Regions from separate parts of the Homo sapiens genome. Here regions 1 and 3 are each linked to region 2. Evidence: fine-mapped expression QTL. A gene starts in region 2. Each other region holds a variant in brackets. All regions are shown on one strand. Distances are from middle to middle.

What was found. PIP is the estimated chance that this variant, and not a neighbour inherited with it, causes the effect.
Region 1: its variant is fine-mapped to the expression of MTARC2 in whole blood (INTERVAL, PIP above 0.99). The same link has a PIP of 0.9 or more in adrenal gland and pancreas.
Region 3: its variant is fine-mapped to the expression of MTARC2 in left ventricle (GTEx, PIP above 0.99).

What each region holds. Positions count from the first base shown.
Region 1 is chr1:220,762,685-220,773,744 of GRCh38, reverse strand. It overlaps MTARC2 (mitochondrial amidoxime reducing component 2), which reads right to left. Exons shown (of 8, transcript NM_017898.5): 4 at 10,695-10,835. Among named protein-coding and RNA genes, the nearest start is that of MTARC1, 19 kb to the left of the region's middle. RefSeq lists an enhancer at 4,324-4,618. The variant C/T (reference allele first, on the strand shown) is at 5,263.
Region 2 is chr1:220,742,696-220,753,755 of GRCh38, reverse strand. MTARC2 (mitochondrial amidoxime reducing component 2) reads right to left here and starts at 5,434. Exons shown (of 8, transcript NM_017898.5): 1 at 4,953-5,434. The coding sequence starts at 5,224. It overlaps LOC124904516 (a long non-coding RNA gene), which reads left to right and starts at 4,941. Exons shown (of 2, transcript XR_007066884.1): 1 at 4,941-5,937; 2 at 6,993-9,436.
Region 3 is chr1:220,792,657-220,803,716 of GRCh38, reverse strand. MTARC1 (mitochondrial amidoxime reducing component 1) reads right to left here. Exons shown (of 7, transcript NM_022746.4): 3 at 6,912-7,074; 4 at 5,703-5,843. Among named protein-coding and RNA genes, the nearest start is that of MTARC1, 11 kb to the right of the region's middle. The variant C/A (reference allele first, on the strand shown) is at 6,011.

The DNA of each region.
Region 1 (11,060 bases), 20 kb before region 2:
GTTCATTAGATTCTCTGTGACATCAAATACATGATGTCTTTTCCAACACCATTTCTGCAATTCTCTGACACCAATTGGGTGTCCAACAATTCAACTCAATTCTGACACTCACTACTAGAAGCAAGTAGAGATCCCTTAGGTAAGGGCTCAGTCCTACAAGACTGCCCCCCATCCCAGATGCCAGCCAAGTCCAGGCCACCCATGCTTCTCACCAACTGGCTATAAATTGAGGGTACCCACAATCCCCTCCTAAGGTTTGACAAGTTTCTAGAATGACTCCCAGAACTCAAAAAAGGCTTTACTGTTGTTCCTGACTTATTATAAAGGACGCAAGTCAGGAACAGCCCAATGGAAATGCTGTCTAGGGCAAGGGATGGGGATGGAGGCTCTCCGAGTTTTCATGCCCTCTCCGGGTGCACCACCCTCCCAGAACTTCAATGTGTTCTCCAACTCAGAAGCTCTCCAAACCCCATCTTTCAGGGGTTTTTTGGAGGTTTCATTTCATGTAAATGATTGATAAAATCATTGGCCATTGGTGACTGAACTCAACCTCCAGCCCCTCTCCCTTCCCCTGAGATCAGGGCTGGGTGGGGCTGAAAGTCCCAACCCTCTAATCATGGCTTAGTCTTTCTAAGAACCAGCTCACATACCAAAGCTGTCTAGGGACACCCCTCTTTCCCCAAGAGTCATCTCACTAGCATAAAGTCAGGTATGATTGAAAGGGGCTTGCTATGAATGACAAAAGAAACTCCTCTTACCCCGTCACTCGGGAAATTCCAAGGGCTTAGGAGCTTGTGCCAGGAACCAGAGACGAAGCCCAAATATATATTTCCCATTATACCAGAGTTAAATGATCTCAAACCGAAAGTTATTTTTTCTATTCTTAAGACATACAAGCTAATGAATATTCCTTAATGTCATATTTCAAAATCTAATCACTCTTCTTATAAAGAAAGACCATGCCATGGTTCCCGCAATTGGATCCAGTTCATATCAAGCAAGTCTTCAGCATCCACTGCCCCCAAACACACACACACACACACAAACACACACACACACACCCTGCCCAGAGTGCCTCTTTCTCACTGGGATCCTTCAAGTCTGATGTCCTGACTTCAGCTGCAGCCCTCTACCTACTGTAGCCTTGATCCCACTTGGCCCTGAGACCCTTGCAGGCAGACACAGTGAGGTCATCTCTGTAATCTTAGCATCTATCTCAGAGACTAGCACTAGGAAACCCTCAAACATTTGCTGCAAATATGAATATTTTAGAATTTGGGGACTAAGACAGGATGCCATACACTAAGAATTACCAACTTACATAGGACATTACTTTTCACTTACTAAATTAGTAAAAATTATAGCAATGCCAGGAAGAGCACAATGAAAAGGGCACGCTTATGCTCACCTTGAGGGAATATAAATTGGTATAAGGTTTCTGGAAAGCAATTTGGCAATATATACAGAGAGCCTTTAAAATGCTGCATTAGCATTTCCTAAGAATACTTTTGGAAATGTAGATACCCACCATTTTACAAAGCTGCTCATTATTTATGTGAGAGAAAATGGAAAACAACCTAAATGCTCAATCATAAGGGAATGGCTAAACAAGTTATTGCAGAGTCACAGGATGGACTAACATGGAACCACTGGAACCACGCAAATGAAGGATTTGCAAAGACAGAGCTGGTTGCCATGTGCCATTAAATGAAAATGGTGGAATTTAATACTATTTCTACAATATTGTATAAACCATACTGGAAACACAACAAAATGTTATCACAGGCTACCTTTTAATAGTATGATGATGAAGAATTTTTTTTAATTTTACTTTAAGTTCTGGGATACATGTGCAGAATGTGCAGGTTTGTTACATAGGTGTACCTGTGCCATGGTGGTTTGCTGCACCTGTTAACCCATCATCTAGGTTTTAAGCCCCACGTGCATTAGGTATTTGTCCTAATACTCTCCCACCCCTTGTCCCCCACCCCCCGAGAGGCCCTGGTGGGCGCTGTTACCCAATGAGGAATTTTTATGCGTTTCTTTAATCTATACTGTGTTTTTCAAGCTGTGCAAAGAGTATGAGTTACTTTTTAAAATATCCTTTATAATCAGAAAAAAATTAACTATCTGAAAAGCTTCTTGAAATTAATCACTAAAATGTTTTCCACAGCCCTGGTTCCAGACTCCCTGGGCTTTCTCATGACCCCATGTTTGAACGGCACTGTGTGGAGACCCAGTGTGCTTTATCCTTCAAGGATAAGTATCCTCACATTACACAATATCTGGTGTATGCTCCTACGGAATCGCATGAGACACATTTCTGTAAACCTTAATGCATATTAAATGTGCCTGGAGGCATCTGTTGTTTGGGACACTTGGACCTGGAAAATCCTAGCAGAAGAGAAAGACAGAAGCCTAAGGCTTTTTTTTTTTTTTTTTTTTTTTGAGACAGTCTCACTCTGTCACCAAGGCTGAAGTGCAGTGGCACGATCTTGGCTCACTGCAACCTCTGCCTCCAAGGTTCAAGCAATTCTCCTGCCTCAGCCTCCCAAGTAGCTGGGATTACAGGCATCCACCACCATGCCTAGCTAATTTTCGTATTTTTAATAGAGATGGGGTTTCACCATAGTGGTCAGGCTGGTCTGAAACTCCTGACCTCAGGTGATCCGACTGGCTCGGCCTCCCAAAGTGCTGGGATTACAGGCGTGAGCCACGGAGCCTGGACTGCCTAAGGCTTTTTTAGAAGCTGGCTTCTGTTCTCTGGAGACCACCTACTCTTAGAAACACCAGCAACAGGCTACAAAAAGGGAAGCAGAGCTCTTGAGATGTGGCCATGTTGCTCTGAAGTGTATTCACTGACTGGGACATCCTGCAGGCTGACGCCGTCTGTGTGTTCCACCCACATACCAGTTTCCTCTCAGGGGAGGTTACGGCCACGAGAATTTTAGTGCCTGATGAACATAAGACATTCTAGTCTCCCACTCTGGGCTTGGCTGGGTGGTCCCACATGACCAACAGCAGAGGCTGGGAGGGGCAGCTACCAATTGAATTCCCAAAGGCAGTAGCCTGGGCTGTGCTGGACTGCTTTTCAGCACACTTTGTCCATGCAGTGACTCACAGCCCTCCAGAGAACAGCGAGAGAAAGGTATGGGGGGTCATGGTCTCTGAGATCAATCCTGCCTTACCTCCACTCTGCCGTCTCTACTCCAACATCTGTATTTGAAGGGCTTGTCTCTTGGGTAGCATTGTAAAGTGAATGACCTCTCCTTACAAGGGATCGATAAGCGTGCGTTCACGTATCACACTCACTCGAGGGGAATACCGCGCACCACCGTCTCTGAAGACACACTTCCTCCTTGGTCTGAAATGTAACATATTTAGAAGTGGATGAGACCTGATAAACACAACTCAATGGCCAAGTCCTTGCCTCGAATTCAGTTCAACAAGGTCTCACACAAAGCCTTGCTCACTCAGGGGCAGGGATAAACTAGAAAAAGCATGGTGAAGGACATCTCGAGAAATGGACTTTAAGTGACTGTTAAGATTAAACGAGTTCACTTACAAAAAAGCTAGAACACAGCATGTGCAATATGAGTTTTTGTTTGTTTTGTTTTTGGTTTTGTTTTTGTTTTTTTGAGACAGAGTCTTGCTCTGTCGCCCAGGCTGGAGTGTAGTGGCGCGATCTCGGCTCACTGCAAGCTCCGCCTCCCGGGTTCACGCCATTCTCCTGCCTCAGCCTCCCGAGTAGCTGGGGCTACAGTCGCCCGCCATCACGCCCGCTTAATTTTTTTTTTTTTTTTTTTTTTTGTATTTTTAGTAGAGATGGAGTTTCACTGTGTTAGCCAGGATGGTCTCGATCTCCTAACCTTGTGATCTGACCGCCAAAAAAAAAAAGAAAAAGCCAATGCAGCGGTTCTATCAGACAGGGCGTTCTGAGAGACATTTGTGAAAAAGTGCCTTTACCGACCACACATACACAGAGAGAAAGAGAGAGAGAGAGAAGAAAGTGCCCAGGGAGTTAAACAACTTGAGGGCTGCAAAGAGCCTTTAAAGTCCCTTGGTAGAACCTGTTAACTTTCAGATCAGAAAATCATGCTCAGGGAGGTTAAGGCCAAGCTCACGATGATTTAAAGGCCACTCTGCTCTCCAGGCACATCCGCAACTCCTGCCAGTTACGACTTTGCTCCCCTGGAAAACCCTAGCCCAGTGGTTCCCACCCCTGGCTACACACTAGAAACCCCAGGGGAGCTTCAAAAGCTCCCTCTGCCCAAGCTGCACCTGAGATGGAGGCACCAGTGTTGTTTAAGGCTGTCCGCTGGCCCGATGTGCAGCCAGAGGGGGACCCACCGGCCCAGGCAGATCTCACTGCAGGTCTCCTGTTAATCCGCCTTCCGCTGGCCGCCCTAGCTGCGGGCTTTCCAGGGGTGTCTCGCTTACTCACTGGGTGTAGTGATAAGAAAGCTGTGTGAGGCTGTGCGGAAGGAACCTCGCAGAAGCATCTCCTCCTTCTCCTTGATGAGAAAGAGGCGAAAGTCCTGTAGTCCTTGGCTGCGCCATCTTTCACTCCCTCTTGCCCAACCCCTAAAAGCCCCTCTGGAAAATATTACAAATGACTCAGTTGTAATCAAAAAAGCAAATGTAGAAGGAGATCTCCTTAAGTAAAGGAGTTCTGTTGGCAAATTCTTCAGAAATGTGAATGTATTCCTACTCCATCCACTCCTGATGCCTATCCTCCTGTTTTAATCACTGGAGCTTTTCCTAATCAAGGCAAATCCATCCAAGACTCTTGCTGGAGTCCCCTAAAAATATACGCATGTCAGAAGCTCCCCAGATGAGGACATGGAACTTTTACCTTGAAAGGCATGCCACAAACGCCTGCAGGGAGGGGACACCTGCATTCCCCAGGCCCCTGCTTGGTTCTTTTCATTACGAAAGAAAAATGACTTTCAGATGCTTTCAGCTTGCTTCTAACAGAGATAATGAACATGAAATTCAGGCTAATCTTCCTTATGCCAAAGCTGATACCTGTTCTTCTTCTCCATTTTTTACTGAGCACAATTGTCCTGCTTCTTTCAGAGGGCAGCCCCTGACACCCATGACCCCCCAGCCCATCCACAGTGACTGGGGCCCTATACAGGTTTGCCAAATGACCTGAAAATGGCTTTAACAAGGTGGCAGAGTTGTGTAGTTGGCTGATATTCAGGGACTTTTGACGGCCAGCCACAGTGCAAGTCCTCACTTGGCCACACGCTGGCTATG[C/T]GACCTCGAGAGCAAGTTACTCAACTTCTCTGAGTCTCAGTTTCCTTATCTGAAAAACAAGGATCAAAACACTACCCGCCTCAATGGCTATCAGACATTTTCAGCCATGACCCACAGTGAAAACCACATTTTACACTGTTTCCTAATACTCTCCCATGTGTACACATAAGAGAGTTTTGCAAGACAATTCTTAACCCTTCTACATATAGTTTACTCTGATATCTTTTATTCCACCCTATACTTTCCTGTACTTCTTTTAAAAGTGTTAGTCAGGACTCACTACACTGATATTAGAACCCAATAATGGGTTGTGACCCACAGTCTGGAAAGGGAACTAGAATTAGATAATGCATGTAAAGGGTTTGGCACGGTGCCTGTAACGTAGTAAGTGTTCAATAGCAGTGAGTCGTGATTCTTGCTGCTATTTTTGTATATTGTTATCATTACCGCTACTTCAAGAAATCCCTGAAGCCTGGTAGAGACTGCTGTTCTTACACCAGAAAACGGACTTGTTATCTCAAATCCTAACCCACCCAAACTCAGTTTCTGGGGACTGAAAAGTCTAGTGATCATGATTTACAAAAACTGTGTTTCTCAACAGCTGGAAAGGATAGGACTGGGAGGACCCAATCCACACAGCCAGTAAGCAGTGAGGCTCAGAGTCCAACCACAGCTGTTCAGCTTCAAAATCTCCCTCTCTGGAAGTTTCCTGGAGAAACACTTCCTGAGTGAAAGATAACATACCAAGAGTTTTCTGCAAGCTTCTCCACAATTCTTTCATAATGTGGAGTGAGGACTGATACAAACAAGTTATTCCATTAAAAATATCAAGTTTATCTCATCAGGACAGTGAGCAAAGATCAGTAAACACTGACCCCACAATGGCCAACTACAGAGATAGGAAGCATTGGTCAATTTCATTATTTCTAAACTTCATTTTGCTGCATTCCCGGAACTCAAGCACACCACACTGACCCAAGGAAGCAGCCTTTTAAAAATCGTTTAATATTCTGAGCTACACGGACAAAGTACAAAGTACTTTAGGCCACAGACAGTAAATGTTACACAATACATTCTCCTATTACTCTGTGTTTTTGCAATAAATGATGGCCTGAATTTCATGCTGAGGTTTGCTAATTTTTAATGATTAATTGGCCTATTGAATATTCATTTTACATTAATATTTAAGAGAGTCCTACTCATTGAAAGAGTTACAGTTTTGTGATGGTACCAGGTAAACAGATTAATGCATTAGGCCTTTAACTACTGGGCTTCCTAATTTAAGGAAGAATAAATCAGCAACATTAGCGTCATTTAATAAGAAGGATTTTTTTTTAATGTGCGTGGCCAGAGGATTGTTCGAGAAAAATCAGTGTTCTACCTGATTTGCTACTTCTGTAAGCCCATCATAGCACAGGAATAAAATGACAAATGGACTTGGGAGCACAAATTCATTTAACAGTTTATTTTTTTTCACTTTTAATTAATTAATTTTTTTTTTTTTGTAGAGGTGGGGTTTCACCATGTTGCCCAAGGCTGGTCTCGAACTCCTGGACTCACACAACCTGCCCGCCTTGGCCTCCCAAAGTTCTAGGACATGCCTAGCCTTTTTTTTTTTTTTTGTACTTTTATTTTCAGTTTATTATTTAAAAAAAAAAAGAAGAAGAAGAAGAGACAACTCCACTCTCACTGCCCAAGAAAGCAGGATTAGGTTTACATTAGCCTTAGGTTCAGTTTGACAAGTTATAGGAGAGCAAAAATTATAGGTTGGCAAGGTACAGGAAAGCAAAAATGCTTCAGCCAGGGACAAGAGTGTCTTTTTTCTTATTTCCTTGGCTCAGGATTTTAAACTAAAATTAATATCAAAATAATCTGTTCTTTAGTGGAAACAAATCAGGAAACATTTTATTCCCTAAAAGAAAGTTTCTCAGAAAATAATGGAAGAATTACAGGATTCCTGTGGAAAAACTGTTGCTTCATGGATTAATTTCTACTCCATGAACTAATTTCCATTCCAATCTTTAGTAACATACTTCTTGAAACAGAGAATTTCATTTGCTGTTTGCCAGGCATTTAATGAATCTGATATTATGTACATCCTACTAGACAATGTGGGAAACTAGAACTGGGAGGGGGAGGTGGGTTTACTGGCAAGCCATTGAGGCTTGAGCCTCAGGCGCCTTATTTGCACAGAACCTTTCAAGGCCTTGAACCTAATTTTATTTTTGTTAATTTTATATATTTTTGTCAATAATTTTATTTTTTTCTTAAAGGGGCCCCCAAATTGTATAAATTTCAGGTCCCACCAAGTCTAGATTCATTCTTAGAAAAATCTAGTTCCTTCCCTCAAGAAACTAGTCTCCTGAGTACGTCGGGGGCCTCTTCCTCTCTGGCACTCTCCATTGCCCTCCCAGCCCTGACCCTGTATCATCTCTGACCCCCGTGGTCCCTGCACTCTCCTAGCTCAGTGCTTCTCCAGACACTGTGGGCATGAGATTCACCTGGAATGCTGCTGCCAGTGCAGAGATGCAGGCCTTGTCACAATGCTCATGTAGGTTTCAGGTAGGGCCTGCTAATCTGCACTTTAGAAAAAAGACTCTTAGCTAGGTGAGGTAGCTCATGACTATAATCCCAGCAGTTTGGGAAGCCAAGACAGGCAGATTGCTTGAGTCCAGGAGTTCAAGACCAGCCTGGGCAACATAGGGAGACCCTGTCTCTACAAAAAAATACAAAAATTAGCCAGGCATGATGGCATATGCCTGTAGTCCCAGCTAGTTGGGAAGTTGGGAGGCTAAGGTGGGAGGATCACCTGAGCTGGGGAGTTCGAGGCTGCAGTGAGCCGTGATTGCACCACTGTACTCCAGTCTGGGTGACACAGTGAGATCTTGTCTCAAAAAAGAAAAAAACAAAGACTCTCTAGTGACTGGGCCTGGCCTTGGTATTTCTGTCTCAGGCTTCCCTGCCTTTCAATGAGTGTTCAAGAGAGTTGCCAGAATAATATGTGCCTGGCACACTGTACAGGCATTCGGCAGATATTTATTGGAAGAATGCAAATCATAATTACTTCCTTGCTCAGAGTTATTACCAGCTCCTCAATATCCACAGTATAAAATCCAAACTCCTTGGTGTGGTGGCCTCCAGCCAGCTCCAGTGCAGCCTCCCTAACATTTCTCCTTTACCCCCATGCTCCTGTGATTCTAAAATGCTCCCAAGCACCCCTTTATTCATGGCCTCTTGTGCTTCTAGGCCTCCCAACTGCCTGTCACCTTTACCCATAAAGACCCTCCTCTGACCCTGGCCTGCACACAATCCACACAAGTATAGGGTGAACAGCATTGCTTCCGGGGACCTGGACCTGACCCCTCCCCATGCCCAGGCCTCCCTTCTCCAGGCAGATTTAGGTAGTTCTACTTCTACACATCTCTGGTATCTTCTAAGTGTGTACACTAAAGCACGTCTGACACTGGGCTGTCATTGTCTCCTGGCCATGCCCCTCATGTTGGAACATTCTGAAGAGCAGGATCCATATCTTTTCATCTGTATCTGGGCTCCTACAAACCATGCCTGACCTATAATGGATGATTGAATTTTAAAAACTAACAAAGGCACAGAGGAATTCAACTAGATAACAAATGACAAGATAACACCATCAAGTAGACAACTTCTGTATACATTGCTATTGCTCTTTTCTTTTCCTTTTTTTTTTTTAAATACACAGGTTCTCGCTCTGTCACCCAGACTGGAGTGCAGTGGCACAATCTCCGGCCCGGGGCTCAAGCCATCCTCCCACCTCAGGCTCCCAAGTAGCTGGGACTATAGGCACGCACCACCATACCTGGCTAATTATTATATTCTTTTAGTAGAGATGGGGTTTTGCCATGTTATCCAGGCTGGTCTCAAACTCCTAAGCTCAAGCAATCCTCCTGCTTCGGCCTCCCAAAGTGCTGGGACTATAGACATGAGCACCTACAGCACCTGGCAGCTATTTTTCAAATTATCAGATAATACGGAGTGCCTACATGTACGATGGTTTATACAAGGCTCAGTGCAAAGGTTTATCCTAAAGAACCATGTTTATCAACAAATTAGGGGCCGGGCACAGTGGCTCATGCCTGTAATCCAAGCACTTTGGGAGGCTGAAGCAGGTGGATCACCTGAGGTCAGGAGTTCAAGACTGGCCTGGCCAACATGGAGAAATCCCATCTCTACTAAAAGTACAAAAATTAGCCAAGGTGGTGACATGTGCCTGTAGTCCCAGCTCCTCTGGAGGCTAAGGCAGGAGAATCACACAAACCCAGGAGGTGGAGTTTGCAGCGAGCCGAGATCGTGCCACTGCACTCCAGCCTGGGTGACAGAGCGAGACTCTCTCTCAAAAAAAAAAAAAAATTAGGGCACATTTTACTCACACAAAAGGAAGTACGGTCATTCATTCAGGGGAGCAAAGAATTGAGAGGGTGTTTAAGAGCCTCTTCTCTCAGAGTTAACTATTTGGGATCTCTAAATTGGAATTGTCACCCCAGCTCTACAGATGCTGGAGTTACAAGTCTTGTGTTCTAATGCCAGTCACCATTTCTCTGCTAGGCAAAGTGTATAACACCTCTGAGTTTCATTTTCCTTATAAAAAGGAGACAGTAACACAAATTTCACAGGGTTATCGTAAAGATCAAATAAAGTAATTTATCTGAAATGATTATTTAGCTCAATGCCTAGCACCCAGTAAACACCCAATAAATGGTATTTGTCATTGTTACTTCCACTGCTCGGAAAGTTTAGCTCACCCCTGAGGCTTAATATGATGGCTAATCCTTCTTATCACCAAGCAATACCCAGCTATATATATATCACATACAGAGTTCAGGGTTTCTACTGGGTTCTGATGTAGTTTTCCCTTAAGACCACAAAGGTGTGTCCTTGAAAAGGGTGGAAATGTCTGGTGTCAATCCCATAGAAGAGCATGTGGGTGCCCTGGGAGAGAACTCAGGCCACAGCATGGTATGTCTCCGGGGCAGATTGCCTGTGTCCTCTTGGTCTGCACTTTGGGGCATGGGTCTTCTGAAAGTCTCAAATCTTTGAGAGCTCTGCTGAGTGATAGAGAAGTGGAAAATGGCTTTATCTTTCTCTTTATCTTCGCTTCCCTCAGTTATCTCTGAGCTATGATTACATATTCCAACCTCAGATTTGCTACAATTTCGAGTTTTGACTGTTTGCTTTGGGGCCCAAGCATTAACGGGTGAGAGCAACGCCCCCCGAGGCCAGCGTGTTGATGGCAGCAACAATGGGTGAACAACTCCGCAAGCAATGAGTGATGGCAGCAGCAATGAGTGAATGACTGGACCCTGGCGGATCTGAGTTGGCTCTGGCTAGAGCAGAGTTCCCTTAGCACCGCGAGCAGCACATCTGAGCATGATGCACAAAAGCAGTGGGTCGCTTACCTCCTCAAAAGCATCACAGCCGGTCACCACAATATTTGGCCTGAAATTCTCCATTTTCATTTTCTTCTCCATCCTGGTATTCAAATCTACCAGGGAGGCATCTGTCATGATCAGGAGCGGGCAGTAGTCTGGGTAGGCCACCTTGCCAAGAACACAGGATAGTCAGGCCCCACCACTCCACAAAATGGCCTAGACCAACTACAAAGCTAAGTAATGTCCAGAAGCAAAACCTCTTCAGTGCAGAAGAGGGGAGCAGTGTTCAGGAAGGAGAGAGATGTGAGTTTGGGCTTGCAGTGGCCAGGAGCTGGAGCAGTTCCTGCCCATACACAGGGACAGGGCTGCAGCCAGGGCCGGCTCTGGGCCAAT
Region 2 (11,060 bases):
TTAGAAAGAAGATAGAATCTGCAGACTAGCGGGTGAGGAAAATGCAGGCACTGATAAGTAAAAATTGTCTGAAAGCCAGAGGCTTTCCAAATGTGAGGAGGATAAAAAGCACAGCCCCTTCCAGAAGCAGGGGCGGCTCCTCCCAGGGAGACATTCCAAAATATGACCAGAGCCATCAGGGAAAGGCTGAGGAGACCTCAGGAGGACATCCAATATCCCAGCACAGGGAGCTCCGTCTCTGCCCTGTCCTGACCCTGACAGATAGTCTTACATCTGCAACCTCCTTATCCGTAAAGTCCTTTCCAGGTGCTGGCTAAACTGTCCCTTCCCCGCAACCACACCAGAAGACAATGGCTGGCAGCCTGTGCTCTGCTAACTGGCATTATGATGGTGTGGCAGTGTAAAGGCATTCCAGTAACTGTCTTGACTACCTGCTTCCAAAAAGCTGGTGACACTGGGTAGCAGCAAGTCCCCACCCCACTGAGGAGACCACCTTTTTCTTTCTTTCTTTTTTTTTTCTTTTTTTCTGAGACGGAGTCTCACTCTGTCACCCAGGCTGGAGTGCAGTGGCACGATCTCGGCTAACTGCAAGCTCCACCTCCTGGGTTCACACCATTCTCCTGCCTCAGCCTCCCATGTAGCTGGGACTACAGGCACCCGCCACCATGCCCGGCTAATTTTTTGTATTTTTTTTTTTTTTTTTTTAGTAGAGACAGGGTTTCACCGTGTTAGCCAGGATGGTCTCGATCTCCTGATCTCATGATCTGCCCACCTCGGCCTCCCAAAGTGTTGGGATTACAGGCGTGAGCCACCGTGCCCAGCCCACCATTTCCTAAGTGTATATATGCATATGTGTATTATTTATTCATTTATATATATTTATACTTAATTAATATCAAGAGAGAGGGAGACAGGGTCTCACTCTATCACCCAGGCTCTGGAGTACAGCGGCGTGATCTTAGCTCATGGCAGCCTTGAACTGCTGGGCTCAAGCGATCCTCCTGCCTCAGTCTCCTGAGTAGCTGGGACTACAGGCACACACCACCACGCCCAACTGATCTTTTTATTTTTTGTAGAGATGGGGTCCCACTGTGGTCTGGACCTCCTGGCTGGTCTGGAACTCCTGGCTCAATTAATCCTCCCTCCTTGGCCTCCCAAAGTGCTGAGATTACAGATGTGAGCCATCCTGCCTGGTCAAAGATGTCTTTAGATCCCACAGTTCTCTGGCTCACTCATCCTGGGGCTGGGTTCTGTAAATCTGAGGATGTCTGCCCAGAGAATGGGGCTACAGTGAAATAGGCAGGCATCCACTGACTTAGATGCCTCACAGGGCTGGGCCCTATTCCCTATTTCCAGCCTTGTCCCTTGGTGCACATTTCTTTGGTTAGCCTCACTAAAGCCTTCACCCTTAACTTCCAACATGCCCCTTCCCCAGACAAGACTCCCTTTGAGATCTGCACACAACCAGAGCCATGTCCAAACAGGAGTGGCAAACCTGTTTGCACATTATTTCTGACATTATTTCTCCATGGGCTGAATCTTCTCATCTCCCATTCATCCCTTATTAATGTCGCCCTTCACCGTGGCTCACAGCCTGGCCTGTGGCTCCAGACTGTTGTATAATAATACAGGTGTTAACTGCTGAGGTTAACAGTGGGAAGTTGTCACTAGAGGTTTCCCACTCATCACTGTCACTGAAAAACTGGCAACTTACAGGGAGTCCAATTTTGGAACAGGACAAATACAGCAATCACAGGTTAAAAGGTTACCATTTGTAACATACCCCAACCATCTCATTTCCCTGTCAACCTGGGCAATATTATTTTTCACCTCTTGTGCACAAAATGATGCCCAGTGAATGAATAACTAGTTCTATTCTGCCAGATCTGAAAGAAGAGATAAGTCTGGAGCATAGATTTCATCATAACCAAGTTACCCCAACCTAGTCTGCAACACTAAAAGCCAGCACCTTGAATTCACAGGTAAAACATGAGTATGTGGTAGAGGGATCAGTGTAGAAGCCTGGAGCCCCGATTCCCCAAAAGAGCTATAGAGCCCCGAACAACCAACAGCAACGGGTAAGTGGAGCCCAAAACAACAGAAAAAAATATCATTTCTCAATTACAAACTGGCCTGGGGAGCAGGAAGGACTGAAAAGTGAGGGAAAGCAGGAACTCTACTACTGAGTGTGGGAGGAGAAAAACAGCAGGAATTGGGCAGGGAATAACACCCTGGACAATAATAAACTTAAGGGATTCCTTTCTCCAACAGTTCATCATTTGTGCAGAAGAAATAAAGGACTGGCTTCAGTAAGGGTTTAGAGAGATAAAACTGATCAACTCACATATGGCTGCTAAGGAGAGCAGAGATTTCCAAGGTCAGGGAGGACAAGCACGCCCTCCCAGCAACTGCACCAGGCACCGAATGCCAGCATTCTGCCAGGTGGACTTTAAACACTCAATGCTTAGGGTGCTCAAGCCAAGTGTTCACAAGTATACTAAGAGCTTTGAACAAAATACCTTTAGAAATTTGAGACCCAGAGCACTTCCAGAGGAAAATCCCAGCTCCTTGGAACAGTTAGTTCCAAAGACACAGGTTCAGAATGGAATTCATTAAATGAGGCCTTTCCCTGAACTCTAGGAACATTTGTAGTAGTGTTATTAAATTGTCAGGTGGAGAAGACAGCGGCTATCAAACAGAGTTCTCTCCAGCAAGCCTGCTTTCAAATTGTTAATTATGCTTTGATAAATAAAATGTAGTTAAAATGGGGCTTTAGAGACCATGAAGTTCAACCTCATTCTTTTGCAAATGAGACAACTTTGTAGAAGTTCGCCCAAAGTCTCCTGATCCTCAGTGCAATCCTTATAGTTTTATATCATGCACTGGTTTCATACAAACAGCATAAGTTCTGTACTCACACAGATCTGAGTTCACATCCCCACAGCACACACTGGTTTTCTGGCCTTGGATGGGATACTCCTTCATTCTGATACTGTTTCCTTATTTGCAAAATGGTGATAATACTATCTAGCCCACAAGATTGTTATGAGGTTTAAATATGCTAATCTATGCGACAGGATTTAGCTCAGTGTCTGCTGCATTTTAACACTGAATAACATTAATTTCATTGCCTTTCCCTCTACCCCAGGCTTCACATCACCCCACCCCATCCTAAGCGTTTATTGTTTAAAACAAGGGAAAGGTAATACAGTTGTATTTATTTTAGGATGCCAGTGGGAGCAAAAAGCACAGGCAAAGGACACGTATTTTCTTTCCATGGTTGCAGTAGTCATGGCAAAGCAGTGACAAAGAGAAGTGGGAAAGAAACCGTTCTTCAGGTGATCAGAGGAAACGCAGATTAGAACTGGAAACTGTCTGTGAAACCAACCCTTCAAGCGAGGAAGGAAGTAGTGCAACCTAGCCTGCAACACTAATTTTCTCTGGACATGCATCGTGAGAATTTGGTTCTCCCAGTTTTTTGGAAGGTGTCCAGTCCCACACAGCCTGAAGTCTTTCCAGTAATAGGAAGGCTTTTCTTATCCTTCATATTTGAATAAGCTCTAAACATCCTCTTCTTCTTCATGGTCTCGGATAAAATCCTTTAATTATAGCATCAAAATCACCAGGGGGAGATTTAAACATTCTACACGAGTTGGCCCCACTCTTGGTGATTCTGCTTCCGTAGTCCTGGGATGGGAATCTCAGGAAGTTATAGTTGAAAAAGCTCTCCAGGATAAGAAATCTGGGGTAAGGGTGGGAGAATGAAAATCCTCCCATGATTCATATGGTCTGTGTACACAACACTTCTCTAAGACTCTCTGAAGTTTTCCAACACCATGGAAGTCCACATTTCTTTAAGAGGGCAGCAGTCTTCAGAAAACAGTGCATCCGCGTGTCCTGGAGTGAACACAGGGATGCAGGTGGCTCTCTGCTAGAGGAATCCTTGAATGATCAACTTGCAAACCTCCCTCCCCTCGGACACAGGCCCACAGCTAAACCATCTCGGCCAGATAAGAAGACATCTTGGCTGGGCACAGTGGCTCACACCTGTAATCCCAGCACTTTAGGAGGCCGAGGCTGGTGGATTCCCTGAGGTCAGGAGTTTGAGACCAGCCTGGTCAACAGAGTGAAACCCCGTTTCTACTAAAAATACAAAAATTAGCCGGGCGTGGTGGCGCACACCTGTAATCTCAGCTACTTGGGAGGCTGAGGCAGGAGAATTGCTTGAACTTGGGAGATGGAGGTTGCAGTGAGCTGAGATAGTGCCACTGCACTCCAGCCTGAGCTACGAAGTGAGATTCTGTCTCAAAAAAAAAAAAAAAAAAAAAGAAGAAGGCATCTTAATCCTAAGTATGAAATGTCTATGTGTCAGGCCCAAAAGTCCCAAAGTTCCAGGCTGTGAACAACTCTGCCTATGGGAGAAGGGGGGACACTATTCCCTTAATGGCAAGTATCACCTCTGCCCCAGAGTCCCCATGCCACTTGCTCATCCTTCATCAAAGTGTATCAGGCCTCCAGGGCACCCCCAGGATTGGAGAAATGTGAGGAACAAGGCCCAGCAAGGCCTAAGCCAATGTCCTTGAACAACACTTGGTTTCTTTCTTGCTGCTTTCTAGTGCCAATAGCTTTATTTTTCTACTTTGGTATACTAGGATAGAATCACAAACTTTAGAGCTAAGGAGACTTGGAGATACAGGTCAGACCCCCTCCTGTTACAGAGGAGGAATCTCTCGTCTAGGGAAGGGCAAGGGATTGCCCCTACCTACTTTACCAAAAATAAACCTGGCATGAACTTGGCCTTCCCAGATAAACGACCAACGGCCCAACAGTCAGCCCAGAAACTCAGGTGGCAAACCTCTATAGTCCTTCCCAGATAGATCGGGCCCCACCTGCCCCCCCGCTCCTCATCCCAGGCAGGCTCCGCGCTGCCCCGCGCCCGCGCTGTGCTGTACCTGTCCCGCAGGTTGCCGCTGCGCAGCCCCATGGCCGTGCACTCAGCCTCGCTCACCGGCACCCCTTTGCAGGATTTCACCGGGTAGATCCAGAGCTTCGCCACGGTGCCCACCTGCTGCAGCCGCCGGCGCCGCCTGGGCCATGCGCGGCGCCAGGCGACAGTCCCCAGGGCCACGGCGGCCAGTCCTAGCGCGGCGACCCCGAGCCACCTGGGCCAGGGCCGGGCTGGGAGGCCGAGGCGGGCCAGCGCGGAGGAGCTGGAAGCGCCCATGGCAGAGCGAGGGCGGGCGCGGACCGGCGCACAGACCCGGCAGCGACCGGAGACCGGGAGGACGAGGAGGCCCTTAAGGATCCGGGCAGGCGAGAGGAGTCAAAGTTGACCCAACTACGGACCCTCTCACACTTTCACCGCCGAGACGGCAGAGCAGTTCCGCGGAGAGCGGGAATGCCTTAATGCGGTGACCAAGCCTGCGCGGTAATGGAGGAAGACAGGCAGACAGCGGCGGGGGTACCCTGGGCGCCGTGGGAGCGACGCCGCCCAAAGCAAGCGAGCTAATGGGGCGGCCTCTGGGGTGGTCAGTGTCTCCTCCCTCTTCCCCGCCCCTACAACACGACAGTTACCCATGCAACATGACCTTCAGCGCCAGCACTCTGCCACCCCCTTCTCTGCTAATACTGCACGCTTAGTCGCTCGACAAGATCACCGCAGAACGTGAAGGCGGGTTGCCCAACGGAGGATTTACAAACATTTGGGAACGACTTTTTCTGGCAGGTCGCTGTGAGAACTGCAGGACTTTCTGCACACAAAGACACAGTCTAAACCTCTGCACTCAAAGACGAGGAACTCTAGCGTGGCTTATAGGAGCATGACTCAAGGTCCCCCACCCTCCGCTGCCGCCTAACCTCGACCCCAGTAAAATGTCTTCCCGAGAAAGCTCAAGGCAGCCAGGAGAATTCCCCGTTTATTCTAGCCAACACCCGATGGTAAAGCCCCTGACCTCCCTTTTTTAGGATATTTTCTTAAAAGGGCTTACAACTGTGAATCCTTTCTCTGTTGCTTTGAGATGTATATGTATCGCCTACACCTCAGAAGTGTCTTTCTCAAGGACCTGAAAGCCATTGCTCTGAAATGCAGTCATGGGGAGGATAGGCCTCTGTCCCCCAGTCTCTGTGGGAGGATAGAATCCCAGCTTCATAACGGCCAGCTCCAGGCACAGCTGCCCGTCATTAATACTGACCGCCCCTTCATGATTTTTCACTTGATCCCCTGCTAGCTTCCCGGCCCTATTCTCTCCTTCACCCTTTAAAACGCCCATTCTGCTATGCACAAATGAGAATGATCAGCTTTTTCTCCTACTGTAAGTAGTTACTGAGTAAAATCTGTTTTCATGGTTTAACTAATGTCTGGCTTTGTTGATCTTTAACACCTCCATTCAAGCAAGCTATTGGGTTAACAGTGGATTTTCTCAGACAAATTAAGGTTTGAAGTCTTTCAAGTTTTTTGTTGTTGTTCTGTTTTTCAAAAGTTTGTCCCTTAAACTGTGGCACAGTTCTAGGAAAGTTTAAGGAGGCCAACCAGTGGGCCACCCCCCAAATCTGGGCTGGCCACCTCCAGAGAAAGGGGCCCGTTCTGGAGTGTGGGAAGAGACTCCGGGAAGGATGGAGAACCAGAGGAGCCAGGTTCCCTTTGGCTGTTCCTTGTGAAAAGTGAAAGACAAAACAGGGCCTGAATCTCTCCCCACCCAGGAAAAAACCTCAGGCCAGCAGAATTAGTCCCTCAATCCCCATACATTTACATCATGCTTGGCAGCTGCGACTTATGGATTTGTTTTTTAAGCATGGTGTGGTGAATGTGATGTGTGTACACTTGTAGCTGACCCCCTTTGCCTCTCCCAACTCCTGAGGAGGGTCAGAGTCCTCCCTGCCCACAAGCCTGCTGTCAGAGTGAGGGGCTTACAAAGCCATCGCCTCGCTATACGTGAGCTCCCAGACAGGGCAAATGTCTTATTGATTAATCATCTCTTTCTTTCACCACATAGATATTGATCATTCACCAGGCTTCGTCCTAGATTGGCACTGGGGATTTAAAGTTTAGAAGAAGCTGCCCTTCCATCCAGTTCACTGACTCCCCAGAAGACTGACACCTCCCCTGCAAGTCTAGAGGATAATGTCAGAGGAGAAGCAAGGTCAAGATGCAGAGGATGCAGAGGCAAAAGAGCAGCTGAATCTCAGGACAGTGCTGTTTTCAGAGGGCGGAGCTTTGGAGCTGAGACTTGAACATGAGGAGGGGCTTGGAGATGGGTAAAGGAGAGGATTCTGGGCAAAAGGAGCAGCACGTGCAATAGCCTGAAAAAATGGAAGGAACAAGAGAGTGTGGCATGTTTGGGCAACCACCAGCAATCCAGCTGTATTAGGATGTACCTGTGCATGCAGCAGGTGGCGGGAGTTGAGGCAGGACAGGTGGGCAGAGGTCAGATCAACAGGCATCTTATCTCTACTTAATGTGGAGACACCTCAGAATTCTGAACAACAGTCTGGCATGATTAGACTTGGGTGCTAGGAAGGCCATTCTGGCTGCTCTGAGAAAGAGTAACACCAAAGATGGTTAGATGAGTTGCAAATGCCCTAGTTCAGGCTGATGTAATTCCAAATCAAGGAAAAATAACAGTGGGGCTGGAGATAGACATGTGGTTAGGAGAGATGGTCAGGGGACAGAATTAACAAGAGATAGTGATGACAGAACACAGAGCCAGAGGGAGAGGAAGAGCCCACGGGGCCTCCTGGCTCTGTGGCATAAAAGTCTGGGGTGGGATGGGGGTACCATTCTCAGAGATTAAGAATTCAAGAGAAGCTGGGCACAGTGGCTCACACCTGTAATCCCAGCACTTTGGGAGGCCGAGGTGGGCGGATCAGGAGGTCAGGATATCGAGACCATCCTGGCTCACATAGTGAAACCCCGTCTCTACTAAAAATACAAAAAATTAGCCAGGCATGGTGGTGGGCATCTGTAGTCCCAGCTACTTGGGAGGCTGAGGCAGGAGAATGGTGTGAACCCAGGAGGCGGAGCTTTCAGTGAGCCGAGATCGCGCCACTGCACTCCAGCCTGGGCGACAGAGAGAGACTCCGTCTCAAAAAAAAAAAAAAGAGAATTCAAGAGAAGAAGATAGTCTGGGAAAAAAGATGATGAGCCTATTGTGAACAGCGAGTGAGAGGTATCTTTGAGACATCAAAGAAGAAATAGTTACCTAGATAGATGGGTAACTTGACCTTTCCATGCTTCCACCTCCTCATGTGCAAAATGATGGGGATAGACATCAAGTGAGGAACTTTGCCATGGTGAGTGCTGCCAAGTCTTTGCTGTCTTCACCAGCCATTATCTATCATAGCCTGCCCTGTTTAAGCTTCACCAATGCTGGGGTTGGGGGTGCCTTCAGGGGAGCAGGGAAATTCCTTATCAGTAATGTGTACATTTGCAGCCCAGCATCTTCATTTGTAGAATTAGTGAGGGGTGATGAGAGGCTGTATTAGTCCATTCTCACACTGCTATAATGAAATACCTGAAGCTGGGTCATTTATCAAGAAAAAATGTTTAATTGGCTCATAGTTCTGCAGTCTGTACAGGAAGAACGGCGGCTTCTGCTTCTGGGAGACCTCAGGGAGCTTTTACTCATGGTGGAAGACAAAGCAGCAGTGGATGTCTTACATGATAGGAGCAGGACCCAGAGAGAGGGGGGAGGTTCCACATGCTTTTAAACAGCCAGATCTCATGAGAACTCACTCTCAGGATGATAGCACCAAGGGGAATGGTATTAAACCATGAGAAACCAGCCCCATGATCCAATCACCTCCCAGCAGGCCTTAACTCCAACACTGAGGGTTGCAATTGAACATGAGATTTGGTTGGGGACACAGATCCAAACCATATCAAAGGTTGAGGATTCATGAGTCTAATTGGCTGTTTGCATATCTTTTTTCCCTTCTGATTTGAATCAACTTATCTATTTTTTTGTTAATTTATAAGATCCTTTTATAAATTAAGAAAATTACCCTTTTATCATGCCTTCCCAAGTCATAACTTTTTCCCCTAGTTTGTCATATTTTGGCAACTTCTGCTTAGGAAAAATCTTTCTAGTGAATAAGACATCATTGTCTGCCTAGAGGCACTGACATAGATAAAGAAAACTCTGTCAATTAAAATATCAACCAAGAAACCAGAGAAAAAAAGAAGCCTAAAACCCAAATATTACCTTGCTTAGCCAGGTCCTCTTCAGGAAGGTGAGTACCCAGCAGCCAATGGAAGTATTCATCAGGGCCATGTAGCAGTTTGTCTTTCCTGGGGAGATGAGCACATCAGATTATCAGGCAGTGAGGATAGTCAACCTTCAACCCATATAACAAATCTCATGACGCAGGCTAGGCTAAAATATTGTAACAACCTCAACATCTCAATGCTCTAACAAAATAAAAGTTTATTTCTCACTTACATCCCAGTTTGATGCAGGCCAAACATTAATCAAAGGTCCCCTTAGGCCAGGCCCAGTGGCACACACCTGTAATCCTAGTGCTTTGGGCGACTGAGGCAGGAGGATCACTTGAGCCCAAGAGTTCAAGACCAGCCTGGGCAACATAATGAGACCCTGTTTCTACAAAAAATTTAAAACAACAGAAAAAGAGAGAATGAGGCAGGCATGGTGGTGCATGCTTGTAATACTAGCTACTTTGGACACTGAGGCAGAAGAGCCGCTTAAACTCAGGAGTTTGAATGGATATTAAGCATATATATATAGTGGAAGAAGAACCATGGCTAGGAAGTCAAAATGCCCTAGTGACTATGAAAATCCAGCCACATGACCAGGGCTGAAAGCACCAGATTAGAAACTCAAGCTTGATAGTCAGCACCTTCAGCTTTGAAAGGAAGATGGCATTGGATCTCTCACCTACTTTCCCTTGAACACATAAAACCAAGTGGCAGGGACAGAGCAAGATGTCTGATTAGCAGCCTCTATAGATCATCCTCCATGCAGAGACACCAATTTAACAACTATCTATACTACAAAGTACCTTTATAAGAACCAAAAATCAGGTGAGCAATCAAAGTACCTGGTTTTAACTTCGTATCACTGAAAGGGGCACTGAAGAGGGTAGGAAAGATAGTCTTGAATTGCCAGTACCACCCTCCCCAGTCTCCTGGCAGTGGCCAAGAGAGAGTCTGTGCTCTTGGGGGAGGAAGAGCACAGCGATTGTGGAACTTTGCATTGGAACTCAGTGCTTTCCTATCACAGCAGTAAGCAATATGGGCAGAACTCAGCTGACACCCATGGAAGGAGCACTTAGACCAGCCCCAACCAGAGGGGAATCACCCATCCCAGCAGTCACAACTTAAGTTTCAGCAAGCCTTGCTTCCACAGGCTAACGGGCTCTGGGGTACTAAATAAACTTGAAAGGCAGTATAAGCCACAAGGACTGCAACTTCTAAGCAAGTCCTGGTGCTGTGCTGGGCTCACAGCCAGTGGACTCGGGGGCCATGCAACCTAGTGAGACAGTAGCCAGCACATCTAAGGGATTTCTTGACCCACGCTTCTAACCCCAGGCAGCACAGCTCACAGCTCTGAAAGAGTCTTCTTACTTGAGTAGAAAAGGAGAGTACTTTGTCTTGCAACTTGGATACCAGCTCAGTCACAGGAAAATAGGACACCAGGCAGAGGTGTGAAGCCCCCATTCCAGGCCCTAGGTCCTAGATGACATTTCCAAACATACTCTAGGGCAGAAGGGAACCTGCTGCCTTGAAGGGAAGGATTCAGTCCTGGCAGAATTCATCACCTACTGACTAAAGAGCCCTAGAGCCATGAATAATCAGCAGCAGTACCCAGGTAGTATATGCTGTGGATATACTACACAGCATATACTAGTTTGTAAACCTAGATTACAACACCCAAGTCCCTGTGAATACCTCGAAAGCTTTCCCAAGAAGGAAGGGTACAAACAAGCCCAGACTGTGAAGACTACAATAAATACCTAACTCTTCAATGCCCAGATGCTGACAAACATCCACAAGCATCAAGACCATCCAGGAAAATATGACGTCACCAAAAGAACTAAATAAGGCA
Region 3 (11,060 bases), 50 kb before region 2:
CCCTTCTATTCCAAAAAAAAAACTACTGGAGATTGAGTCATAAGCACTGATGAGCCCAGGAAAGTCTTCCTACAGCACCTGGAGGTGACCAGTTCAAACAGGACAAGCCTGGTATGGGAGAGGCTCAGAGCACACGGTAGCTTCAGAGAAGGGAGGGAGCGCTTTGAGGTCCAGCAATCAGAGCAGGCTTCCCAGGGGAGGGGGCTTTTAATCCAGGCTTTTAGAGAATGTCAAGAGTTTTAAGTAGGGAAGGGAGTAAGATTCTCAGTGACCAGGAGACACCAGTTTGCAGTTTGGAGCTTTCGTTCGTGATATGGTTTGGCTGTGTCTCCACCCAAATCTCATCTTGAATTGTAGCTCCCATAATCCCCATGTGTCATGGGAGGGACCCAGTTGGAGGTAATTGAATCATGGGGGCGGGTCTTTCCCATGCTTTTTTTGTGATAGTGAATAAATCTCATGAGATCTGATGGTTTTATAAAGGGCAGTTCCCCTGCACGCACTCTCTTGCCTGCCACCATGTAAGACGTGCCTTTGCTTCTCCTTCACCTTCTGCCATGATTGTGAGGGCTCCACAGCCATGTGGAACTGTGAGTCCATTAAGCCTCTTTTTCTTTATAAATTACCCAGTCTCGGGTATTTCTTCATAGCACTATGAAAATAAACTAATACAGTTGGTAATAAAGGCTGGAAAAGCAGACTGTGGCAAGGTTACAGAGGAATGTAATGATTGAGTGGGAAGTTTGGACCTTTGTGACATGGAGAGCCACTAAAGGCTTCTGAGCAAGTCAGCAACACTGATGATTTGTTACAAACTTTTAGAGCGGGAGAGATCACGCTGATCAGCTCTAGGAGGCTTGGCTGTGGCAACATTCAGGAGGGAGCACTCAGTGGTCCAAACTTAAAGTAACAAACGTAGGATCTGGCTGGTGGCTAAGGATAGAAAGGGGAGCCGACATGGCTGGGGCTGGGAGGAACACAGCAGAGGGAGGAGCCAGGGCCGACTGTCACGCTCTGAGCCTGGGTGAAAGAAAAAAACATGCTGCCCTGGATAGAAACTGTGAAGTCAACAGAAGGAGTTTGGGGGCCAGGCGCAGTGGCTCATGCCTGTTATCCCAGCACTTTGGGAGGCCAAGGCGGGTGGATCACCTGAGGTTAGGAGTTCGAGACCAGCCTGGCCAACATGGCAAAACCCTGTCTATACTAAAAATACAAAAACTAGCCAGGCATGGTGGCGTCTGCCTGTAATCCCAGCTACTCAAGAGGCTGAGGCAGGAGAATCGCTTGAATCCGGGAGGCGGAGGTTGCAGTGAGCTGAGATCATGCCAGCGCACTCTGGCCTAGGTGACAGAGCAAGACTCTGTTTCAAAAAAGAAAGAAAGAATGAGTTTAGGGAGGTGGGGTGAGGGTGTAGGGGCTGGGGTGGGAGCACATAAGTCTGAGTTTCTCTGTCAACCAACAAAGAGTTGGAACTGTGGTGCAGCACTCCAGAGGGAGTCCTGGGTGGACATTTGAGGGACCTATGTCAGGTGACAGAGGGCGATGCTGCAGGAGACAGTGTGATCACCAAGGAGGGGAGAGAAAAGGGTCAAGGCCAGAACTTTTGGAAGTAAGGGATGAGGACAAACAGCAGAGAAGCAAGGGCAGTACAGCTAAAGGAGAAACGTTTCAGTAAGTAGTGTCCATGTGTCCTCAGAGCGGGGTGGTGGTGACTGAGAAACGGTCACTGACTGTGGCAGGTAGGGTGGTTGTCTCTACTGTGGCTTCAGGGAGAAGTGAGGTGTAAGAAATGTGTGTGGGGAGTGCCGATGATGAAGGGAGGCAGCGAAAAGCCACAGTTGCTGAGAAGGTAGCTTCCGAGATGAGGAGTGGGTCTGCTTTCCAGAAACTTCCATGCAGGTCCTCGGCCTTCCTCCATGCTAGCCTGCTCTCCCAGCTGCACCCTGGCCCCGCCTGCGCTAATCCTTCTCCAGGCTCCTGGCAGAGGCAAATGTGTATCATGCAAATCGGATTCAGTCACTCCCTGGCCAAAAATTCTTCCCAGACTCCCCAAAACCTGACACCAAGTACCTGTGCTCTCAGCTCCCCTCCTCTCCTGAGCCCCAGCACTGCAAGATGGCCATTCTCTCATACCTTCATAGCCCTGTGTATGTACCCCTCCCTCAGTGCCCCCCTTTCTCCTGGACAATACTTTGTCCAGGTCATTCATTTAACAGATAATTAGTGCACACCTTCTATGTACCAGGGGCTCTCCTAGGGGCTGGAGATACAGCAGCCCCTGTCCTCAAGGAGCTTGCATAGGGGAAACAGACAATACACTGATACCTGAGTACACACGGCTTGTTAGGTGGGGTGTGTGCTGTGGGGGGGGCTGGGTGAGCGGGGTCAGTGAAGCCCGCAGCAGGGGACTGAAAGAGGCACTGGAGTGAGCCATGAGGCCTGTGAGGGAAGATATGCCAGGCAGAGGACACAGCTGGGGCCCAGAAAAAAGGCCAGTATGGCTGGGGCAGAGTAAGAGAGCAGAGGGGAGTGAGAGGAGAAGGGGCTGGGAGCTGGCGGGGTGCAGGTCATGTTGGGCCTTCCAGGCAATCCATAAGGATCCCATCTTTTACTTGAAGAAAGGTGGAGAACCATGAGAGGGCTTTGAGCAGACAAATCACATGATGTGACTTACATCAACAGGGTTACCTTGATGGATGTGCTGAGAACAGCCCATGGATGGTGCAGGGCTGGGTCAAGGGTGGGGCAAGGAGGCCAGTGAAGCCAGGCTGCTGCAGCACCAGTGGTGACTGCATCCGGGCAGAGAGGGGAGTGGGGGGGAAGGCCCAGCCACCAAGATCTGTCAACTGTAGGAACCTAGGATGTGAGAGAAAGAGAAGAACAAGGGGTGGTTCGCAGTTTGGGGCCTGAGCCAGCGGAAGTCAGAGCTGTTGTGTGCTGAGATGGGCGAGACAGCACAGCAGGCTTTGGGGTGGATACCTGACCCTCAATTTCAGACATCCTGACGTTGGATTAGACATCCACATGGAGATATGGAGAAGCAGGGGAAAGCTCTGGCAGAAGGATATAGTTAGGGGTCCTCAGGGCAGAGAAGGTCTTAAAAACAGATGATTAAATAAAAAAAAAAAAGGAAAGAAAGAACAGATCAGAAAAGTGAGTGCAGACAAATGAGAAAGGGTTTGAGACCAGAGCCCTGGGTGCCCCATGCTTCAGCTCACCCCACAATGCAGGTGTTAGTCACGTCCCCACGTCTGGCTGCTCGCCACCCTCCTGGCCATATCTCACTGTGCTGTGACTTTTCACTATCTGACCACACTGAGCTCCTTAGGAGAAGCAAGTGCATTTCTTCAACCCTTGTTCTCATGTGTCTATTCACAGCGCATGCCACACAGGGGCAGCAACCCACTCGATGATGGGTGAATTACTAAAAACAAGGCCGGCTCAGCCACCATTGTGTTACCGCCCAGCTTCACATACAGAATGTTCTCAACTAGGGAACACTCAGAGATAGAGAGAGAGATACGGGTTTTTAGAGTAAGACTCAATTGAAAGAAATCTCCGAGATCTGAAGTTCTACTCTGGGCCATCTCCTCTTCTCCTGTCATCCGAATCTTACTGTCACAGAATTTTGGGGTGGAAATGGCTTCAGCATGACCCTCGGTGCACAAATCACACAGGGGAGAAAGAAAGCTTAAAGTCGATCATAGGGAAAAAGCTGGTACCTGAGCCAAACTCCCAGGAATGAAACTCTTCCTTACCTCCCTGTGGTACTTAATGTCCTAGAACTTTTCCACAAATTGTCATCGACCTTGATTCTCACAGCTCCCATCAGGCGAGGGAGTCATTGAAACTGCCCGTGTTTTACAACTGCAAGAAGCAGATGCCTCGGCGAGTTTGGTGACCTGTCCAGGCTTGTACGGTCACTTGCGGAAGCAGGTGGATTAGAATCCAGCTGTCCCAGCCCCATACATATGCCCTAGAATTCTCAGGGTTCCTCTGGCCTTGTACAATTGGGGTTCAAAACCCAGCCCCTCCTTGCTGTGGTATAGCCTAGGGCAGGCCACCTCACCTCCCCAAGCCTCTCTCTTCTCTCCTGTAAGATAGGAATGATAGCTTTATCCCGCTGGGCTGCCGTGAGGCATAGAAGAGACAACATACTTAAGCGCAACACAAGTATTCATTCAAAACCCTCCCCACTCATTTCTCTTTTCCTGAGAAGGAACGTTCTCAGGAGAAATGGCTCTCCTAGCCATAGCTGGTGGAAGATGAATATCAAGGAGATGGTCAAAGGCAACCAAACACTGATTATTTTCCTGTTGTCTAAGTCAGGCTGGCCCATGGTGCACAGGAGCAGGACAGGCAGAAATTTCTTGTCACAAAGAAGCACTGAGAGATGCCCAACCCAGGACCTTGGGGGACATGCACACAGTCCACCCGCCTCACACTAGGAAGTTCTCCACCATCTTTAGAAGAAACGCTACCCTTGGAAGTTTGGAGCAATGAGTATTTTATATGAAGCATTAGCAGTGGATTTGGGCGTACTTTTATTATCCTCCATCGATTGATATTGCTTTTATACATCTCATAAATTACATTATCCAAACTGACCCTTCAACAGACCCTTAAGGTAACCCTAGGCAGAAATATGATCATCTCATTGTTCAGGCAAGGTAAATGGGACTTAGCGGGGCTGCTCAAAGTCATGCAGAAGCCAGTGCAGAAGCTGAAACCAGCCGTCACATCTTCTGGTTTGAATGTGGGAATCAAATTCTTAGATTATTTCTCTTTCAGCATAGTTTTGCCTCCGTACAGCAAAAGTGAAGAATATAATTGGCTCCTCTGAGGATAAAAGGTTAAAACTCAATTGCTTTGATTCCATTTTTCCCTGTTATGGAGGAAATGGGCAGACGTAAGAACCACTATATGGTCCCCTTTACCTCTCCCTTCTCAACATAAATTTGAGGCACAACCAGAGCTCCTGAATTCCTAGCTGTGGGTCAGGGTTTCTGTTGAGTATCCACAGCTGGTGGCCACTCACCATGCCTCTAGGCCACCAACCTCTGCCTTCATGGAAGCCCAGGGAGAGAATCAAGTTAAATAGCCAAAGGCCATTTATTACAAAGGTAAATTTGCTGCCAGAATCCTGTGGAATCCCAGAAACCAAGCCTCAGGGCTGTTCAAGCTAAGTCACCACGCAAACATCTGAGGGCAGATGGAAGGTGGCACTGCAAGCATTTCAGGGTAGTGCCATGAAGCTTAGGGGCAACAACCTCTCCCAACCCTCACCCAGCAGCCTTGCAGTAAATGCCTGTCTTCTCCAAGAGAGCCGTCTACTAAACAGTAAGACCATCCTTTAACAAGACAGGAGCACACACTTTCTTTGTTCCATGGCCCACACAGATCATGTAGTCTATGCAAGAAAATGTGACTCAACAACGAACCTGTCAACTCAGAATTCTCCTTAGAAGCCTTAGATACTGAACTGCCTCCTTGATGACAGTCTCTGACCCATCAACATTTGTATCCTCCACACAGAAGTCTGCACTTATTAAGTGCTGAATAAATCTAAAAATCAAATTGTTATGTATTACAGAGTTGATAAATAATGCACCCTTCAGAATAATCTAATCCAATGTCAAAGACTCTCATACCTTAAAAAAGAAGTCAAATCCAAGGAAAGATCCAAAGGGGCATAGTGTTACCTCTGCATAGACATCGCATCCTGAAATTACAATATTGGGCCTGAAGTTGGTTGCTTTAACTTTCTTCTCTAGCCTGGAGTTGAGATCCGCCAGCGACGCCTCAGAAAGGATCAAGAATGGGCTGGTGTCTGAGTAAGCAATCTGATAAGGAAATAGACATTGTTATAACACATGGCACACCAACTTTTCAGTGGTTAGGTGTGCCTAGTTCCTAGACATAGCCTCCATGCTCCACCCCACCCCACACACAATCTTTCAAAGTAGTTCTCTTGTTCTTTTAATAGAAGTCACAGTGACTCAGAAGTTTT[C/A]AATAGCCTTGCAGATAGCAGAAACTGCATGGTGGAATGAAGGGAACAAGGACTCAGAATCAATCCTAAGCTGCCACAAGGCATGTGCCCTTGGGGACATCACTGAACCTTTCTAAGCCTCCCATTTCTCAAATGTTTAATAAGGTGGTTGAGTTTGATGACCTCATTATGTTTGATTTAAATGTTCACTAATTCCATGAATACTTATTTTATGCAACTTACAAATTAATATTTATGTTGACCATAATTTATGCATTTGCTTGTTTCTTTATTTATATATTTTGAGACAGAGACTCCTTGTCACCTGGGCTGTAGTGCAATGGTGCCATCACAGATCACTGCAGCCTCAACTCTCTGGACTCAAGCAATCCTCCCACCTCAGCCTCCTTAGCAGTAAGGACTACAGCATAATTTATTTTTTTTATGGCCATGGTAAAAGCAGTATATGGTACTACAAACCCTGCTTTTATGATGAATCCTTAGAGCTTTATGCCATTAAGGCTGATCATTTGAGTCTGTGTATCTCCATACCCATGCCAACTTGCACAATTGGAATCTGACATACAACTGCAAACTGTAAAAATTCTGGACTCCATGTGCAATTACAGAATGGAATGAAAAAAAGACACTGGTGCAGAACAGTTTTGAAACCCTACTGGCATCAGAATGCTTACACAAATAGGAAGGTAGATGCTCAAGGGCAAAAATTCAAGAGTCCCCCAAACAAAGAAACAAACAATGCTTCCAAGGGAAGGGCTTTATTTCTGCCTACTGCTTGTGATCTGAGCTACCAGAGGGCTGCCCCAGAAAACAACAGAGCCGAGGTCATCAGAGATGCCACCTGAGCCCCCTGATCTGGGGGTGACTGCTTTCTACCCATGGAGGCAGCAGAACCTCTCACCTGGTCCTTGGGTCGGAACAAGTCTGCTATTTGATGAGGACGTCTCGGTCGCATGTGAGGCTCGAAGTGCACCAGGCGGTAGGGCTGTGACTTCAGGAAGCTGGTTATCCACTGGGCGGTGGCCTCGCCACAGTCCCTGCCCTCTATCTCCAGGCCGTGCACTCTGCAGGGGTAGCAGGAGCAAAGGGCAGACATGGCTTTGAAAATCCATGCACCCTAATATGTGCCAGCTATATCAGAAAAGCTGCTCCTAGCTGTAACATTACTGTCATTTCTTAATTATCAGAAGATGTAATTTTAGTCCTGGTCCTGACTCCAAACCTGTGTAAGGCCAAATGAAAATGAAAGCACCCCTTTAAGCATTGCTTTCCTCATTTTAAAAATCAAGTTTTGTACAACTGTGTCTCCCTACCTGGAAGGAATGCAGGGAGGATGAAATGAAATAATATATTTAAAAATGTACTGAGTTCTCCAGAAGAAAACTAATGTATCAGTATAAAGTAAACTTAGAATTACTGCAAAATCTAGTTCACCCAGCTGAATAGCGACCAGAAATCTTTATTCACAGGCCTGGCTATGCTTTGCCAGTATAGTACAGCAACAATATGAAAATGTTCTATAAAGCCTAAAACATTACAGATAATAACTATATATATAACAATCATTAACAATAATATTATATTTATTTAATAATAACAATAATAATCTACTGGATTTGATTGCAAGTTATAACTTTGTAGGATTTGAAGTTCCCACTCCCCAGCACATAGTCCTGTGCAGGGCTGTTTGGCGTTATATGAATTTCACAGCTATGGAGAGGAAAATAAATGCTATGGTGTAGGCCAGTGTTTCACAAAATGCAAGACCATTACCACTGCTGGCATTCAAGATAACTGTAGATGGCACCTGGGTATAGCATTAAATAACAGTGAATTGCACAGAGAGAAATTTCAGTTTAGTGGTAATAAATCTTTACCTTTTAGCAACACTTGATAATCTCCTCTTTTAACAAAGAAAGAACACACCTTAGGTCCAGAGACCTCTGTAGGCAACAGCTTCTAGCTAGAATTTAGTAATGTTTTAGCATATTGAGTGTTGGTTACTTTCTGGCAAATTATATAGGTAGCCATATAAAGTTTGTATACAGGTAGCCATATAAGGTTTATAGGTAGCCACATAAATTTATATATAAACCCATATATATAAATTATATAGGTAGCCATACAAAGCCGTATACTTGGCAAATTATATAGGTAACTACATAAAGTTTCTTTTTTAAATAAATGTGTTTAAGATTAGTTTATAAGCTGAATCAATTTAAAGAGAAATATTAAGTAAACAAGAGTACAGGTGGTTTATGGTTTGGCCTACTATCATCGTGGTGTTATGCAAATGCTGGAAGTTTGAGAAAGCTTAGTGGATCAAGTAAATCTACTTGGGTGAGCATTCCATTTCCACAAATGACTAGCTCCATGGCCTTGGTGATAGTTTCTTATTCTGAGACTCAGTTTCTTCATCAATAAAATGGGGGTAGAAGCAGAACTTTGTTGTGAGGATTAGGAACAATCCGTAAGAAGTCCCCAAACAATTCTTAGGACTGGGATATGCTCAGTAGGTAGTAATGACCCAGGGTCCCCCAACCAAGTTATTTCAAGCTATCTTTGTATAGTTACTCCATAAATCAAACATTTAATCCAACAAAAGCATCCATTCTCTAATAATAATGTATAAATGGATTTTTATATTGTAAAATATATTGAGTATAGTATCCTATATAATTGTATATAATTTTATTTTATTGCTTTATATCTAAAATGAGAAGTCATTACTAACAGTGTCTGGGTTACATTAAGCAGTAGATTGGTGTATTCAAAGTTTTCATAAATTTTTAAAAACTTTTTATTGAAGCGTAACACTCATGCAGAAAAGTACACTGCTGTAGTATATGACTTGATACCTTTTCACACACTGTCACCCCACCCATTCTAAATTAACTCCTGAGAATCAGAGGGCTGAAATATGCACCCAAGGCCTATGAAGTAATGAGACCATTTACAAAGACCAGGAGTGTCTGCCTTACTCTTTTCTGGATCAAGATGAAAAATAAATAAAATGAATAAAATAAACATACCCAAATTTATACACCCAAATGGATATTACCTTTCAGAGCAGTCACCTTGGGAAGTAATCATTCTAACCTAGTATTAATCATATCTACTTATTTCTACTTTTAAGCCTAACCTCATTTTTTAACCAAAAAAAAAAAAGATCCTATCGTTTTCTTATTCACAGGCTTTAGCTCCAAATAATTTTTTACTTTTCCCAAAAAATCAAATCCACCAGTTCTAGAACTGAATATATGTGGGGGGCTTAGCATCTGTGTGTGTGTGTGTGCAGTTTAATGTCTGAAATGCTAATTTCAGAAGCATCTTGTGAAATGCCAGCATTACCAAATATCTAGGTATGGAGACAGCCTTGAAGGTCATCTCCTTGTTAGATGTCTCTTTGCTGGTGCCTATGAGAAAAAAAAAAAAAATCACCCTCCTTTCTCCAGTCAAACCCTTACAGCCCACCAAGGCACCCTCTCAGTCTCAACTTGCCATTTGGCAGCCCAGGGCTTCCCTTAGTTGCTTTTATAGGAGGGTGGGAGGGCACACACAGTGGAGGATATAGACAGGAAGGCTGCTTTGACTCCTTGGGGCTTCAATTGGCAATAATTATTTTTACAAAGTCAAAGCATTTGCATCTATCTTGGGCCATTTAAACATCTGCCCTGCTAATCTGACACTGATTTCCATTGCAACATCTATTTCTAGATCCTGGGGTTCAGGTTCATAATCACCCAGAACTTGAGGCCTTTCAACGAGTAGAATTTGTTCTGCCTTCTTCCTGCTCCTGCCACATTTCTCCTGAGTTCTGATTGGCCTCTGCTGTATCTTGGCCCCAGCACCCCACCTGCACACTGTCCCAAAAAGTGCAAGTGAAGAATTAAAATAAAATTCCAAATGCTCCTATAACCTTTGACCCTTTGACAAAGATAATGTAGGCATGGCTTGAGATGGTTTGAGGTTTGAGGCTGTTTGTCTGAATAATCCATAGCCAAAGTCCCTAATTCTGTGTATCTTATTAATAGCAGGCAAGGCATGTGAGAAAATCAAGTAACATCTTCGACCATGAAAACAGGTGTACTGCCTGTGATCACGACCCCAGCGCCCCAAGAACTCATCCGAAATCTTTAGGAAACTGTGGGCTGAGGTTACAGCTCCCTCATAAGAGAATAGGTTGGGCTGTCAAAAGAAACCTGAATCCAGAAGATTCTTGGAATCTTTGCTCGAAGAGTCTGTATACTACCGTAGCATGTCTAAGCCTTTTCATTTTGCAATTTGCAAGCATGCCCTTGTTTAGTCTTTTGGGCATGGACCAAATGCCCATATGGGACTGTGAAAAAAGTTTCAACACAATTTCAAATGAATTAAAAATTAAACAAAAAAATTAACTGTAAGAAAATATGGGTAAATATCTAACCATGGCAAATAAACACAAATCAAGACATGGACAAACATGAAATACAGATTGCAATATAAGTATTTAAAAGCTTACCTCATTCAGGGAAAAATACAAATTAAATTAACAAGAAATTATCATTTTTGCCCATAAAAATGGCAAAATGTTTTTTAACATAATGGTTAAAATGGAATTGGTAAAACCATTCTGCAAACAATTTAGCAAGGTGTATCAAAAGCCTACAGGATCCATATTCTTATTTCAAGCAAAACCACTGCTAGAATTTTTTCCCTAAGAAAACAACAAATGATATAAACAAAGATTTATGCCAAGATATTCATCACATTCTTCTTAATACCTGGAAAAAAATTAAGACAATCAAAATGTTTAATCATGGGGCATATTAAAATGCATTAGAGGACACCCACAAAATGAAATATTATGCCAACATGAAAAATGGTATCCTTAAAGATTTTTTAACAATATGAAAAAATACTCAACATATCAATTTAAGTATATAAACAATATTAAAGGATTTTTTGTATTATTTCAGTTTAGTTTTTAAGTAGTAGGCATAGAGACCGAAAGAAAATATGCTGCAATATTAATTAGTTATCACAGATAGTTTTTGTTTCTTTTTTTTTT